Linked DNA regions of Homo sapiens: region 1 is linked to region 2. Evidence: fine-mapped expression QTL. A gene starts in region 2. The other region holds a variant in brackets. All regions are shown on one strand. Distances are from middle to middle.

Region 1 (2,900 bases), 460 kb before region 2:
TCACCGCCAGCCTTTCCCCCCTCCTCCCTCCTCTGTTCTCTAGGGCCTGGGCCCTCCCCCACTCCACCCCTCCCACTCAGCCCCTGGAGCTGGGGCCCTGGGCCTGGTTGGTACCATCAGGGTATTGGCAGCAGAAATGACACCTGGGAGAGGCGACGAAGGGGCCTGGGGCAGGGAAAACCACCGCCCCACCCCGTTAGCCTTGCCCCCTGCTCCCTGAACCAGGAAACCCGGCACGGGGACAAGCCCAGGCTTCTGTCTGGAGCCGAAGTTCCTTGCTCATGCCCCTTCCCCCACCTTCTGCCCCCTCTACCTTATGCTGGGCCCCTAGGAACACACAAGGGTGTGGTGGCTCAGAGAGGGAAGCGCCTGGCTTAGGGCGGCACAGCACCGTACTCCAGGCTTGCACCAGCCCAGCCCTGGGCCCTGTCCTGGCTGAATGGGTGCCTGGTGGACAAGGCGGGGCCCCGGGCTGGAGAAGCTGGCTGAGTGGGTGCCCGGTGGACAAGGCGGGGCCCTGGGCTGGAGGAGCTGGCTGAGTGGGTGCCTGGTGGACAAGTCAGGGCCCTGGCCTGGAGGAGCTGACTGAGTGGGTGCCCGGTGGACAAGGCGGGGCCGCGGGCTGGAGGAGCTGCCTGGGCTGGAGGAGCTGCCTGGGCTGGAGGAGCTGGGAAGCCCCAGGGCACAAGGAAGGGCTTCTTCACCCTCAGGCTGTTACCTGGGCAAGCCAGAATCCCAGCCACACCCCAGGGGTTCCAAAATGCATCCGTCTGCCTTGAGGCACTCCATTCATTCATTCATTCACTCACTCATTCATTCATTCATTCTTCAACATTTTATAAGGACCAACCATATGCAAGGCACTTTGGATATAATGGAAACCAGGAGAGAAGAGAGACAGGGCCCAGGTCCCAGGGCCTGCAGACCAGTAGGGAGTGGGAACAGACAATTGCTGCCTCTGTGGGACCCACAGCAGGGGTGTGATGATGTGGAGGGTGAGGATCTGGGGCTGAGAAGCCAAGGGAGGACCAACCTTGTTGGAGCTGTCTAAGCAGGGAAGGGTGTGTGGCCATTACCTGGTAAGCAGGTGGGTGTCGGGCAAGGGCATTGGGGCCCAGGTGCCAGGCCGCTTTTCTGTCTCTTTCCCCCGCAGGGGCAGGTGGCTGCCCCAAGCTGAGCGGCTGAGTGTGTGGTGTCTTTCTAGAGGCTGCCCTGATCCTCTCAGCCCCCTCACCTGCACAGATGGGGCCTCAGATGGACAGCAAGGGCCCGGCCTTGCCCGGCATCACCCAGCAAGCGGGAGCCACAGCTGGGCTGGGCCTCTGGGCCTGGGCTCTTCCCTCACACCTGGCCTCCCCACTCCTCTTTCTAGTGCCGGAGTCACCTTTACACATAGCACCACAATCTCAGGCAAAGTCTCTTTCACCTGCTTCCCAGGGCCAAGCCTGGCCCTGCCCTA[G/T]TCTTAGGTCACCCCCTGGGACCCTGGCTACCAGCCACCCCTCCCAGGGTACACCTAGTGTCCATGGGCCGGGCCGGGCCGGGCCAGGGGCCGGGGATGGAGGCCAGCTCTGCCCCTCCACACAGGCCCCTCATCCTTGCCAGGTCTCTCTTTCCTGCACTGCCAGGGGGGCAATCTAGGGAGCAGTTTCGTGGATGGAGAAACCCTTCTACCTTGGGGCACAGCTTGTTCCCAGCAAAGGCTGGACTGGGGCTCTAGGTTCCTAAGGCCCAAGAGAAACAAACCTGTTCCCAGGCCTGGCTGGTGGTGCCCACAGGCGGGGCTGGCACCTTCCCTGGGAGAGGCACCATTTCAGCACCTAGGACCGGCATGGTCCCTGCGAAGCGCTGGCATTCAGGGGGCTAGTCAAGGGTGCCCAGTGCCAAAGTCTGGGCGATGAGGGAGAATCCCTCAGGGTGTGAACTGTGTCCAGCCTGTGGTAGGGGGAGAGAGGTTGCAGCAGAGTGCAGCCCTGGAGCCACGGAACCATAGCGCAAACAACTGTGGGGACCTCAGAGTCCCAAGACTGCAGGCTGTTAGCATGGGCTTGCAGAACACAGAACCCTAGAATTGCAAGACCTAAGGAACCTGGATGAGAATCAGGTGCCCTGGACGGGGGTTATTTTCACACATTAGGACATGCTCCCACCAGCATTCTAGGGAATGTCAGAGGGTTTGTGTTAATGCTGAACTCCTGGGTTCTCCCCTCTGCTAGGCCACAGCTCAGTCTACTTCCTGTTGTGGCCTGGAACTTGTGGCTGCCAACCCTTAGCTCCATGAGGTAGGTTCAAGGCTGGTGAGCACAGGGCCCACCTCACTTTCCTCCCCCACTCCCCTGCCTTCATTTGCTCCCAATACATACCTGCTCATCCATCCTCTATCCTCCATCCATCCATGCATCCATCCATCTACCATCTGCCCACTCATTCTCCACTCATCCACCCACCCATCTATCCATCCACTCATCTGTCTATTCTCCATCCATCTATTCATCCCTCATCCAGCAATCAATCTACCATCTGTCTACCCATCCATTCATTCACTTATCCATCCATCGACTCATCCATCCATTCTCCATCCACTCATCATCCATCCTCCATCCATCCAGTCATCCATCAATCAATCTACCATTTGTCCACCCATCCATCCATCCATCCACTCATCTGCCCACCTTCCATCCATCCAGCCTTCATCCATCCATCCTCCATCCATCCATCCTCCATCTTCCATCCATCCAGCCTCCATCCATCCATCTTCTCATCCATTCATCTTCCATTCACTGATCATCCATCCTCCATCCATCCACCCACTCACCCATCTGTCCTCCATCCATTCATCATCCATCCATCCATCTATCTACTCATCCATCCATTCTCCATCCACTCATCATCCATCCTCCATC
Region 2 (2,900 bases):
AGGCAGCCCCCGGGAGCTGAGAGCAGCTCCTGCCGGCCCTCAGTCCTACAGGCACCAGGACATGACTTCTGCCAGCAATCGCATGAGGTGGGAAGTGATCCTTCCCCAGTCCAGCCCCCAGATGAGAACACAGCGGCTGACCAGAGCTGAGGACCCAGCTAAGCCTGGCCTTCTGGCCCACAGAAGCCTTGAGATAATAGGCGGATGTCGTTTTAGGACACCCAATTTGCGGTACGTAGGGAACTAACACGCGGGGCTCTGGCGGGCCTGGCGGCTCAGTGCGATCTGGGCAGGCAGGAAGTGGAGTGAGCACAGCCAGCGGCTGGGAGCACATCCCGGAGGGGCTGCCTGCGGCGGGAGGAGCGGCAGGGGCCACGTGGTGGGGGACGGCTCGCCAGGGCGCGCACGCGGTGGCGGCGGCGGTGGAGGCGTTGCCCGCCTAGCTAGGGGCCCGCGGCCTGGAGAGGCGTCGGTTCTCCTTCCGCGCTGAAGGCGGAGACAGCGACTTCCCGTGGAGGCAAGCCGTGGGCGCCGCGGAGGCGGGGGCTGGGGGTCGGCGGAGGCGGGAGCTGGGGGTCGGCGGGGGCTGGGGGTTGGCGGGGAGCGTCCTCAGGGACAAGTCTCCCAGCACGCGGCCGCGACCTCCCCGTTGGGGGTCTGGAGCCAGGAGCCCACGCGCGTCGGATCCGGAGAGTCTGGTGGGCGCAGCCTACGTGACAGGGTCGGCTCGGGACCGAGCTGCTGGGGACTGGGCCTTGCGGGGCGGGGCCGCTGGGGGCGGGGCATGAGGGTGCCGGTTCGGGGCGGGGCTTTTTGGGGGCGGGACATGGGGCGGAGCCTGGGGGCGGAGCATGTGGGGAGGTGGCTGGGGAGGAACTTTCGGGGGCGGGACACGAGGGCGGAGCCTGAGGGGGCGGGGCATGAGGGGAAGCCGGCTCGGGAAGGAGCTTTCGGAGGCGGGGCCCGCTCGGGGAGGGACCTGATTTCGGGGGAGCCTTCGGGAGGGCGCCTGCCATAGACGACTGTAAAGGGGCGGGGTCAGCTCGGGGAGGACCCTGCGGGCGTGGCGGCAGTTATGGGTGAAGCCTGAGGGGGCGGGGCCTGATCGGGGCGGGGTCTTCGGGGGCGGAGTCGGCTGGGGATGGAGCCGCTCGGGCCGAGCCCTCCACCGCCCACCATCACCGAGTCCGGCCCAGGCTCCTAGCGCGGCCGCCGGAAGGGGCGGGTCAGCGGGCGGGCATTTCCTGCCGGTGCCTAGGGCCGACGGGGACGCTGGCACTGGTGGGGAGCTGTTGGGGGGTCCCGCATCTAGGGCTCTCCTTTCCTGCCTCCGGCCCCCGCGAGGGGCGCGCGCCTCTCCCCGCCCTCCAGCAGTCCTGGTAGGGCCCGGGCGCGTCCGCGCTCTGCAGCGGGAGGTCCTCGTCGCCTCTCGTCTCCAGCCAGGTACTCACTGGGCTCCTGCCTGCCGCCTCCGGCCCAGGACGCGCAGCGTCGGTATGGGCCCCGCCGCCTCCCCGCACCCCGGCGCTCCAGGGATGTGGCAAGACCCGGCTTTGAGCACCTCCCGGGCGCCGGCCCCGAGGCCGACCTAGCTCTGCACGTGGGCCGCGGGGCTCTGCCGTTGAAAGGAGAGCCTCTAACTAGGAGCACGCACGGGACCCTGGCGGGCCCCTCCGCCTGGCTCAGATGCCTGGCATCTCAGGCCTTGGCACAGCTAGCAGGCCCCTGGCAGGCCGTGGACCCAGCAGGCTGTTTTAGTGCAGATTGCCCCTGAATCTCAAGCCCACTAATGTTCCAGTCTCTCCATGAGACCCAGATCCCTGAAAGTAGTGGAGGGAGGCGCCAGGGTGAGTGAGGTTTTCTAGGCAGCCCTTACCGCCCACGGATACCCAGAGCTTCATATTACAAGTGAAGGGTCCTCCGCCCAGAGAGGCGACGGAGCTACGCTGGAGTTGCACGACAGAACCAGAACCCCAGTCTTTAGGGGTGTGGCAAGCGTGGGTTGCGCTGTTTGTAACTAGCTAATCACTCCTGTCTACAGGCCTGTGAGGTGAGGCCAAGAAAATCGCTATGGTCCAATCCGTTTTTGTTTTTTGCGTGTGGGGTTTTTTGTTTTGGTTTGGTTTGGTTTTTTTGTTTGAGACGGAGTCTTGTTCTGTCGCCAGGCAGGAGTGCACTGGCGCGACCTTTGCTCACTGCAACTTCTATCTCCTGGGTTCAGGCAATTCCCCTCCCTCAGCCTCCTGAGTAGCTAGGACTACAGGCACGTGCCACCACGCCCAGCTAATTTTTTGTGTTTTGGTAGGGACAGGGTTTCACCATGTTGGCCAGGATGGTCTCGATCTCCTGACCTCGTGATCCGCCCACCTCGGCCTCCCAAAGTGCTGGGATTACAGGCATGAGCCACCGCGCCCGGCCAGTCCACTCTGCTTTTAAGAAATATTTTATTTCTCAGGGTGGGCAGCGTGTAGAGAAGTGAGTCATTCCAGTCTCTGCCGGTTAGCACCTGCCAGCCTAAGTTGAGTCGACAGAGCCGTTATGGAGAATGTTCCCTGACCACAGTATGTGACTAGGATTTGGAGATAAAAAAGATACGATCCTCGCCTTCAGGAGACCCTGTCGCATAAGGAGACTGCCATGTCAGTGACCAGCCACACGTGCAGTGACAAGTGTCTGGAAGAAGGAACAGTGCTGTACAGCATGGAGGACCCCCACACAGGCCTCGGGCAGCAGCCGTTAGGCTCAGTGGGTTCACAAACCACCCCCCGCCCCGCCGTGGAGTGGAGTCTGCAGAGAGCCAGATAGGTTCCCGCCATGCCCTGGAGAGCTGCCGTTTCTCCAGCTCCGCCCTGCCCATGAGGCAAACAGCTGGTCGACTGGTCTTCTGTGCTGGTTCTTGG

What was found. PIP is the estimated chance that this variant, and not a neighbour inherited with it, causes the effect.
Region 1: its variant is fine-mapped to the expression of ZFP41 in sigmoid colon (GTEx, PIP 0.99).

What each region holds. Positions count from the first base shown.
Region 1 is chr8:142,789,087-142,791,986 of GRCh38, forward strand. No RefSeq gene overlaps it. Among named protein-coding and RNA genes, the nearest start is that of LY6D, 4.0 kb to the left of the region's middle. The variant G/T (reference allele first, on the strand shown) is at 1,460.
Region 2 is chr8:143,245,700-143,248,599 of GRCh38, forward strand. It overlaps ZFP41 (ZFP41 zinc finger protein), which reads left to right and starts at 1,240. Exons shown (of 3, transcript NM_173832.6): 1 at 1,240-1,443. RefSeq lists silencers at 335-494, 695-1,584, 1,625-1,674.